Linked DNA regions of Homo sapiens: region 2 is linked to region 1. Evidence: fine-mapped expression QTL. A gene starts in region 1. The other region holds a variant in brackets. All regions are shown on one strand. Distances are from middle to middle.

Region 1 (5,383 bases):
AAATGGCATGTATGGAAAATTATGGCAATGTGATCAGTTAAGCTAGAGAAGACATCGTGGGTGAGAGTGAGGAAGACTGTATTTTTTTCTGTTTCTGTTGAGATGAAGCAAGAGAAGGGAAATTTAAATTTATATAAAGAAAAAACATGGTTAAGTAAGGGTTTTTTTTTTTTTTTTTTTTTAGGTGAAAGGACTTGAATATACTTACATGGTGAGGGAAAGGGGTGAATGGAAAATGAGTTTTAAGATACAGGAAAGAAAGGAGATAACTGATTAACCAGGTCCCTGAGGAGATTGGTCCCTGAGGAGAATCCAGGGCACACACAAGTGGATAGGAGAAAGAATAGATGAAGATGCAGATAGGAGTATGAATAGGGTGTCATTAAGTTGAGAGAGTTCACACAAACTTTATTTTCTTAGGGAAGTAGTAAGATGTTTTACCTGTCAAGAAAGAAAAAGAGAAGACTTAGAGTTGAAGGCCTGAAAGGGCAGCAAAATTTGGAACAACCATTAAAGGGAATGAAAATAAAAACTAGCAATGGCAAATCTGGGTGTTAAGGGCAAAGCTGAGACTCAAACCCATAAACTTTTAGGGACACCAATCTTTATAATTGTGTGATTTGCTTTTGGAGAATGATGGAGGGAGATGGTTGGAATATATAAGACTGGAGTCTTTTGGGTTGGCTGTGATGGAAAGACAAAGAGGAAAGGAAACTTAAGGATGCTGGCAAGAGAACTGTTGAAACAAGGAGATGGGAGGAATAAAGAGAAGGCTAACAATGTGCAGAACATGAAGAAGAACAGGTGAGGTAGAAAAGAGAGGTAAAGATAGTTAGAATTTATGTCAAGAGATTGTATGGCTAGGAAGAGTTAACTATATGGGCTTTGAAATCTCTAAAAGATTTGGGAGAAGAGGAAGAGTATAAACTAGTAAGAAGGTGAACCAGAAGCCAGAATCCTCCAAAAATGATTGCCAGTGATAACACAGAACAGAGAAAAAAAAAGAGGTACAATGTGGTGTAGTCATATGACCTAGGCTTCAGATGAGATCATAGGGTCAGAAATAAGGAACAACAAGTAATAAACCACTTTTCTGTCTTTATTTTTCTTTTAACATGTATTCAGTGACAATAATAGCTATATAAATCTTAAACAACAGAGAAATATATGGAGGAGAAAATAAGTTTCTTTCCCCCACTTAGCCTTATATCCTTTGAAAGCCTTCTCAATGCATTTACATGCATGCATATATAATTTTGGGGTGTTTCGACAAAAGTTGATAATGCTGTATGTTTTTTGCAGTTGGCTTTAAAAAATCTTGGATCTCTTTCAATGGCTAACCCTTTAGTTCAAAACATCTCATAGTAATAGATATACCATTAACCATTTCCCATTGATAGATGGTCATTTTGTTTCCATTTTTTTCACTATTACAAACAATGCTGTAGTATTATTGTACATACTTTTTTGTGCATATAAGGATTTCTCTACAATATTTATTAGTGAAACTGCTAAATTGAAGATTACGTCCAATTAATATTTTGATAAATTCTGTTAATTTCCCTTTTAAAAATGCCGTGCCAATTTACATTCCTGCCAACAGTGTATGAGATTAGACTGTTCCTCACGTCCTCGCCAGGGATAAATGTGGTAATTCTTTTTGAAATTTAAGATATCACTTTCCAAGGTGGAGCAGACAAATTAGAGGCAGGTTTGCTTTTTTTTTTTTTCTCATTAAACTTTTTTAATGGGTCTCAAAATTCTGTGACAAATTTTTGGATGTTTCCATTAAAAAGTACTGATTTAAAAAACTAATAACTTAAAACTGCCACACGCAAAAAAGAAAACCAGTGGTCCACAAAACATTCTCCTTTCCTTCTGAAGAAGAAAACCAGTGGTCCACAAAACATTCTCCTTTCCTTCTGAAGGTTTTACGATGCATTGTTTTCATTAACCAGTCTTTTACTACTGAACTTAAATGGCCAGTTGAAACAAACAGTTCTGAGACCGTTCTTCCACCACTGATTAAGAGTGGGGTGGCAGGTATTAGGGATGATATTCATCTAGCCTTCTGAGCTTTCTGGGCAGACTTGGTGACCTTGCCAGCTCCAGCAGCGGTGAAGACTGCTGCTGTTGTAATGAGGCAGGCTTGAGTTTCTGTCTCAGTTTTGCCACTTGCTATCTGTACTGTCAGGGTGTTGTGGTTAAGTTTACCTTTGGGGCGCAGAAAAAGCATATTTATGGTGAGAGTTCGGTAGCATTTATCATTATAATAGAACTGGGAGCTAATATAGGCCATTAGATAGTTCATTATGCTTCCGATTTTATCAGGAATTGGGTTGATCCCACGTATAGTCTATTTAACAGGATCAAATTTTCCAAAAAGATAATCGGAATACACGCCGAAAGTGTGGCAAAACATTTTAACAGGTGTCGTCCTGAAAAATCGGAGATAAAGAGTGTAAGGCACTAAATCAAGTTGGGTGTTTTCAGCGTTTAGACTCTGGAGAGTTGAAATCCACGGTGTCTATGACCAGATCATACATCATTCTCTGCAGGTACCTCGTCTGGGACTACCGGCTGGAGGTTGCCTCTTTTCTGCCAGGAGACTACAGTTAGGAAGTGACTCCTGTAAGAAAATCCGTCACGATTCAATATGGTCCTCGTCCTCGTAGGACACTCCAGGCACCTGCCTAGAGTAAGATGGCGCTTTTCGTAAGCACCTCTCCAGGACAGAGATTTCCATAACGAGAGTCACGCACTTGCAGGCCATCTTTGCCATTATCCAAGACGGTGAGCCGTGCAGCCTCATCGTTTCCAGGTTTCAATATGGCTCCCCGCGTCACCGAAAAGGTTAATCTCAGAAACTAACTTGAACTCGCGCGGAAGTGACGCAACAGAAGTTGTCGCGCTTTGCATCTCCGCCTCCCGTGCTCCGCCTCCGGTCTTACGTTTCGCCCCCGGCAGCGCCGACAGCGGACCCAAGATGGCGACCGAGTTGGAGTACGAGTCTGTGCTGTGTGTGAAGCCAGACGTCAGCGTCTACCGGATTCCGCCCCGGGCCTCCAACCGCGGTTACAGGTACTAACCCCGAGGCGCTGCCGCACACGCGTACTCTGTCGCAGATGACAGCTTCCTTCTCAGCTAGCACGCTGTCCGTCCCTGCCACTACTACCTCTGTATTGTCACCTTGCTAGCCTCCCTACCTGGGTTGTCATCTCCCTGACCACCTGCTCCATCTCCACTCTGGACTGTCATCACCATATTTCTGCCGTTTTTTTTTTTGTTTTGTTTTTTATTAAATTACCACTCTGCGTTATTCCACTCTGCCTCTCCCGTAATCCCCTGGGGCACCCATCTGCTCCCCATCATGCACTTTCAGTCGTGCTTGCTCCATTGCCAGTCCCCTTTCATTCGCTCTTCCCTGCGTCCTTCAGCTTATCATCCTCATCCTTTCTCTCTCTCTCTCTCTCACACACACACACACACACACACACACACACACACACACACACCTTTCCAGTTCCCCATGCACATTTATGGGTAATCGTGTTGCTTGCCACTCTGGATTATCTGATTTATTTTTTGTACTGTTGTCAATTTCGTCACCAACTGTCATCATCCACCATTCGGTTTTTCCTTCAGCAGTTTTACCAGTGAGCAAAGGTTATGATCATAAGCTTTACAACGGTTGTTCATTCTGTTTCTTCTCATTGTATTTTCTTGATGATTATATAGTATTTTCTGTCTTCCTTCCCTACCTCCCTTCTTAACCTCTCCTACACCTTTTCCCTCCAAAGTTGAGGCAGCATTTTTCTCTGTTGGGCCTAACTACCTACCTTGTAATCCAATGACTGTGAGGTTCTGAGGATGCTATAGGACATTATGTAGTTGAAAGACAGTTCACTGGGCTTCATGTTAAACCATATGAGTGTGAGCCCTTTCCAAGCCTCAATTTTCTCATCTGTAAAATAGAAAAAAAAACCTGTTAGTGATGATACCTGCGCTCTTATAATGTGCTTAACAAGGGTTTTTGGGAGAGTAAAATTAAATCATATAATGGATGTGAAAGAATGTAGGAAATGCAATAAAGCAGTTACAAATACTATTTGTTTGTTCTTTTTTTTTTTTTTTTTTTTTTTTTTGAGATGTAGTCTCACTTTGTTGCCCAGGCCGGAGCGCAATGGCTCAATCTCAGCTCACTGCAACCTCCGCCTCCTGGGTTCAAGCGATTCTCCTGCTTCAGCTTCCTGAATAGTTGGGATTACACGCATGCACCACCACACCTGGCTAATTTTTGTATTTTGAGTAGAGATGGGGTTTCACCAAGTTGGCCAGGCTGGTCTTGAACTCCTGACCTTGTGATCTGCCCACCTTGGCCTCCCATAGTACTGGGATTACAGGCGTGACACCACGCCCAGCCGTCGTTTTTTTTTTTTTTTTTTTTTGTTAGAGAGGCAGGGTCTCGTTCTATCATCCAGGCTGGAGTGCAAGTGGTGCAATCACAGCTCACGGCAGCTGTGTACTCCTGGGCACAAGGGATCCTCCTACCTCAGCCTCCCAAGTTGCTAGGGCTACAGGCATTGCCTCACAATGCCTGGCTAATTTTTAAATTTTTTTGTGTAGACAGGATCTTGATATATTTCCCAGGCTGGTCTCGAACTCCTGGCCTTAAGTGATTCTCCTGCCACAGCCTCCCAAAGTGTTGAAATTACAGGTGTGGGCCACTGCACCTGGCCAAGATACTGTTCTTATTCTTCTCTCTGACCCACATCATCATTGTGATTTTTCCTCCTGGCATTTATCATTACCTTGGCTGAAAAGTTACCCTCTCCTTATGTCTGTTATTTTGCCCCTTACTGGCGTTTTATTCATCATGAATCAATATTTTTATGCTTGCTGACCTGTGCGCTGGGCCCTGTGGGTTGCACCTTTGGCAAAGAGGTAGCAGTTCTGTTTTTAATAAGCTTTTAGTTGGACCCCAAACTGACCCTAAGTAGAAATCAACATGCTTTTAGATGGTAGTTACAGGTACTATATGAGTCACTTAAACATCACCTTCTTTGGGAGGCCCTATGTGACCCTTCCATTCTGGTTTAGATATGCACCCTGTGTGCTTCCATAGCACCTTTTTCTTTTTCTTTTTTACTTTAAGTTCTGGGATACATGTGCAGAATGTGCAGGTTTGTTACATAGGTATGCATGTGCCATGGTGGTTTGCTGCACCTATCAACCTGTCATCCTCGCCCCTCCCCCGAGAGGCCCCAGTGTGTGTTGTTCCCCTCCCTGTGCCCATGCGTTCTCACTGTTCAACTCCCACTTGTGAGTGAGAACATGTGGTGTTTGGTTTTCTGTTCCTGCATAGCACTTTATTCTTATCTCT
Region 2 (5,383 bases), 24 kb before region 1:
TAAGAGGAAATAAGAGAGAAAGTGGAGGAGAGGGACAAAAGGAGTAATTATTTGGTATAGATCCACCCATCCCAACCTTTCTCTCCTCAGTCCCTGCTCCTCATGTTTCTGGTTTGGTGAGTCCTTTGTGCCACCACCCATAATGCTTTGCATTGCTGCATCCTGGGAAGGGGGTATATGGTCTCACAAGTTGTTGTCATTGTTTTTTTGCATGCTTTCTTAATAAAAAAAAAAAAAGAATGTTTACAGTTTTATCTTACTGGTAGTGGTCTCAAGTTTCTTTTGGCCAGGGAAGGAAAAGAGAAACGTGAAAGAATTTAGTCTCAGTTCGTCTTTATTCCTCTTCCACCTTCCACCACTGGGTTGAATTAGTTGACCCTGACACGTTTTGTGACCTTGGTGGGAAAGAAGAATCAAAGGCACGTCCTTAACGTGCCTCTTTTCAAATGCTATCAAGTATGATGACATATTGCGGGAGAGTCAGTCACCCCTTGTAGGTTGGTATATGGAGTAGGCCCACCTTGCTTGCATTTTAGGATAGTTTAAAGATTTAAGATATTATACTTTGGGGCTGGGCGTGGTGGCTCATGCCTATAATCCCAGCAGTTTGGGAGGCCGAGGCAGGCAGATCACCTGAGGTCAGGAGTTCGAGCTCAGCCTGACCAACATGGTAAAACCCCGTCTCTACTAAAAACACAAAATTAGCCGGGCGTGGTGGTGCATGCCTGTTATCCCAGCTACTCTGGAGGCTGAGGCAGGAGAATCGTTTGAACCTGGAAGGCGGAGGTTATAGTAAGCCAAGACTGCACTGTTGCACTCCAGCCTGGGTGACAAGAACGAAACTCTCTCTCAAAAAGAAAAGATATTGGTTGGGCGCGGTGGGTCACACCTGTAATCCCAGCACTTTGGGAGGCCGAGGTGGGCAGATCACAAGGTCAGGAGTTCGAGACCAGCCTGGCCAACATGGTGAAACCTCATCTCTACTATAAATACAAAAATTAGCCGGGTGTGGTGGCAGGCGCCTGTAATCCCAGCTACTTGAGAGGCTGAGGCAGAAGAATTGCTTGAACCCGAGAGGTGGAGGTTGCAGTGAGCTGAGATCGTGCCAAGTGTGCCACTGTGCTCTAGCCTGGGCTACAGAGTGATACTTCATCTCAAAAAAAAAAAGAAAAGATATTATACTTTGGACAGGAGCTGTGTTCCCATCTGGGACTTCCTGGAGAAGATACAGTACAAAATAGTTACAGGTACTCACCAGGTTTTCATCAGAAATGAGGGAGCTCTAATTGTAGGAATTTCTTCAGAATACATTTCCAAAGCAAATGGAAAAGAAAAGGAGTCCAGAAATGCTGATTACTCGTTGTACATTAAATCTTTATAACTGCGTCAAGATTATTCACCTTGATATCCTATACACTAACCCCAGGAGTTTAGGTCTTATTCCCAGGGTCTTATGGGATGTGCTGGGGTTTCTGGAAGCCTGGCTAATTGCTATTATAGCAAGTCTATAGTCACTCACTAGGAGACTTATTTGCTGCATATTTAGAGATGTGATATATTCTGAATGTGAAACAAAAGGATTCATAAATCTCTGAGCCTCGCAAGGACCCATGAGAAAAAAAGCATTTATTCATATCAAATATATAAGCAAATTAATATATAAGCTGGAAAGGTAGCACTTCAAATCTTATGTCAGACATTCTTCACAACTGAAAGAATTCCTAGTGATTTGTAATTTTTCTGCATATACTTTATAAAAAATCTGTAGTCCAGACCCTCACCTCAGCCATTGAACAGATAGTGTCTTGCAGGTCTAAAACACATGTCATTTTCTGTTTTTAGACTACATCATTGTATTTGGTTTAGATGAGGCCACGTTGTGATACAAACAAGCCAGAAATTTCAGACGTTTGACACAAACATTTATATATACAGAAAAATGAGAAGGTGGTAGGGAGTTAGGTAATTTTGTTTTAAATGAAAAAGGGACAGAAGGAAAGCTATATAAATGGTTGGAGTGTATAGACAAAGTAGAAGAAAAATATGTGGTCATGAATGAATTAAAATATGGTTATTAATGAATGTTGGGATGCTGGATAAACAAATTAAAAATATGGGGTGCTTGGATAAACATCTTCATCTTTCAAAACAAGAAGTCGTTTTATCATGCCTCCAGAAAAGAGCAGCATAAGCACATGATTTAGAAACATCATGATAATTATCAAAGGAAACATCTAAAATTGTGCAAGGATTATCTCTGGGAAATGAGAGTGGGAGGAGGGAACTTTTGGGCACAGTGAGGTAGGAGACCTCATATTTCATTATATACCTTATTAAATTATTTTAAAACTATGTGCATGTATTACTTTGGCAAAGAAAAGGATTTAAAAAACCCAGAAGATATATTTGGTAATTTTGGCATGTAAGTTGCCTGTCGTCATGTTTTAAAATGTGATGGCAAGCCTGGTAGGGTACTCAGTTGCAGAGAGTAGAAGAATTGCTGCTCCATCCTCCACCCTCTTTCTCCTTCCACTTGAAATACTTTCTTAGAAAGTATTCATTTGGAGCAAGAGGAAGGGAGTAACTAGAATCTTACGAAATTAGAGGTTGTTTGAGGCACAAAGTCTGATGTGGAAGATTTGGAGGCTGGGGAGTAATAAGGAAATTAAGGAGCTTAGGAAGAGGAGTGGAAAATAGGTGCCCAACCGGTAGGCAGTTAGAAGAAACAGAACTCCCCAAACCACAGCTTTCATAACATTTCATGAGTCAGTTTTCAC[A/G]CAATAGATGCTTATTTAGTTGTAATAGTGGAAACTCTATGTAATAGTGGAAATTTCTATATCCTGTACCCAGGGGTGTTCCCAGGGACAGGCATCATTGCATAACCCTATGCTCCAGACTCAGTCTCATGGCTTCTTGTCTTCACAGGCATTTTCTTTTTGCACTTTCTTTTCGTTTAAAACCATCAACACCACACGACAACAAAGCATTAGGATATATGATCATCTTTCACTCACGTAGGAGAACAAGAAATGGTTTTAAATGGAATCTGGAAGACTTAGACAATGCTAAGGAAAAATTTAATGATGGAAATATCGACAAATATTCAACATCATTTAAAAACAAAGTAGCTTCTCTTATTTCACATAGCTTAGTTTGGGATAGAAATAGAACTAATGTTTACAATGATTCTTACATTTAGCATTAATCAGAAACGAGGGTTTGTTAAGTGCCCTTGCTGGGTCCCAACCCCCAGAGATTCCGATTCAGCAAGTCTGGGATGCGGCTTGAGAATTTGCATTTCTAACAAGTTTCTAGGTGATGCTGATGTCAATAGTCTGTGTACCGTTTGAGAACCGCTGGATTGATTCTTTGACAGTTTTTGAAGTCCGCTGCTCACCATATCACTTCATCCTCTTATAAACTTTCACTATGTGATTGCCTAAGAGCCCCTGCTTGTTGGCTGCTCCACATTTTCACACAGTTGTACTATTTCTTTCTGAAATGACATTGTTTGAGGGACAGTGGGTGGAACGTGTGAGCTCCTCACTGAAGGCTGCCTCCAGAATTCCCTGAATGGACTGCCTTGCTTTCTTCCTAAAATCTTTCCCCAAGAGGGCATAAAGGAAGGGATTAAAGCAACTATTGGCAGATGCTAGAGCAATGCATACATGATCCCAGGACATCAGAGTTTTCCCCAAGGGAGTTTCTGGGTCAGTAAGCAATGACAGGACTCCAAAAATGTGGTATGGAGTCCAGCAGACAAGAAAGACAGCCACCACCACCACGGCCACTCGAAAGGTTTTGCTCTGAGACTTGGCGAAGCGGCCCCTTTGCATTCGGAAGACAATGAAGCTGTAACAGGCTATCATGATAACAGAGGGCAGCAGGAAACCCACCACTAGCCTAGTGATCGTTATTGCCACGAGGGGTGTTGGCACTTGATCGTCATCTGTGAATTGGCCTAAATTGTAATAATCCTGGAAACCTTGTGGTAGCTCAGACTCGTAGAAGGAATTGCTAGAAGCGCTAGGGAACAGCTTTAAATGAGTAGAGAGAAAAGCATCAGAGTTATCCAGTGGGCTGGTTTCGTGATCTTCAATAGGAAACCCACTGGGGATTTTAGGTGAGACCACATCAGCAGGTTTAAATACATTAGAATACAGATTTTGACTTGTTAACCTAGCAGAACCCCTAGGGAGTGAATCTGCAGAAGGTCTTTGAAATGTTTGAGGTTGGAAGACAGTGGGGACTGTCCAAGGATGATCATTTGTTTGGAAAGAGGAAGGATCTAACCTATCATTCATTTCTCCAGGCGGCTGAACAATGTTTTCAAGAGACCTGTTTTCTAGTGGATCTCCATAAAAGTCTGGATAATCTAATGAGCTGGAGAGACCAAATTTGTAGCCACATCTATTATGGTTGTCTGTAGTGAAGATTTCCCGGTACACGAACACAGGAATGCACATCACAAAAGCCACCACCCAGATACATCCACAGATAGAGCAGGCCATCCCTACATTGCGATGATTCTGACACCAGATTGGCTTGAATACCACAAGACAGCGATCCAGGCTAATGGCAGTAAGCAGGAAGACACTGGCAAACATGTTGAGGACAATGATGGAGGGGATGAGCTTGCATAGGAACCTGCCGTAGGGCCACTGTCCCTGGAGAGCCAAGTGAGCCAGCGAGAAGGGCAAGGAGAGGCAGCAGAGGAGGTCCGCCAAGGTGAGGTGGAGGAACCAAATTGTGTTCACTGTCCGCTGCATCTTCAGGCCAGCCACCCACAGCACCAGCCCATTGCCTGGCAATCCCAGTAAAAAAGTAAGGCTGAGAATGACCATGGAGAGAATTACTGGGGGCTCATTCCATGGCTGTGAGAGTAGGTCAGTTGAATTGGTCTCAGCAGAGAAAGACGCCATTGCTAAACTTCTGCAAAAAGATGAAAAAAATGTTAAAACAAACAGTATCTTTTTGAAAATGCATACATATTCTTAGGATTCTAATCTTCCCACATAAAGATGTGGGATCATGAAACCAGAAGGTCCTCACGCTGTTTTAGTTTGCCTTCCTTCACCTCACACGGGACCACATAAAAGCATTCTCTGATAGACAATTATATTTATTTATTAATTTATTAATTATTTTTCAGACAGAGTCTTCCTCTGTCGCGCAGGCTGGAGTGCAGTGGATTGATTTCAGCTCACTGTAAGCTCCGCCTCCCGAGTTCAAGCGATTCTCCTGCCTCAGCCTCCAGAGTAGCTGGGATTACAGGCGTGCACCACCACGCCTGGCTAATTTTTGTATTTTTAGTAGAGACGGGGTTTTGCCATGTTGGCCAGGCTGGTCTTGAACTCCTGACCTCGGGTGATCTGCCTGCCTT

Evidence for each region. PIP is the estimated chance that this variant, and not a neighbour inherited with it, causes the effect.
Region 2: its variant is fine-mapped to the expression of NECAP1 in whole blood (TOPMed, PIP above 0.99). The same link has a PIP of 0.9 or more in monocytes, monocytes after LPS, monocytes after Pam3CSK4 and monocytes after R848.

The regions. Positions count from the first base shown.
Region 1 is chr12:8,079,303-8,084,685 of GRCh38, forward strand. It overlaps NECAP1 (NECAP endocytosis associated 1), which reads left to right and starts at 2,972. Exons shown (of 8, transcript NM_015509.4): 1 at 2,972-3,081. The coding sequence starts at 2,987. RefSeq lists enhancers at 2,234-3,433, 2,865-3,084, 3,155-3,214.
Region 2 is chr12:8,055,264-8,060,646 of GRCh38, forward strand. It overlaps C3AR1 (complement C3a receptor 1), which reads right to left. Exons shown (of 2, transcript NM_004054.4): 2 at 1,581-4,932. The coding sequence starts at 4,922. The coding sequence ends at 3,474. It overlaps FOXJ2 (forkhead box J2), which reads left to right. Exons shown (of 11, transcript NM_018416.3): 11 at 1-254. Among named protein-coding and RNA genes, the nearest start is that of C3AR1, 8.4 kb to the right of the region's middle. The variant A/G (reference allele first, on the strand shown) is at 2,778.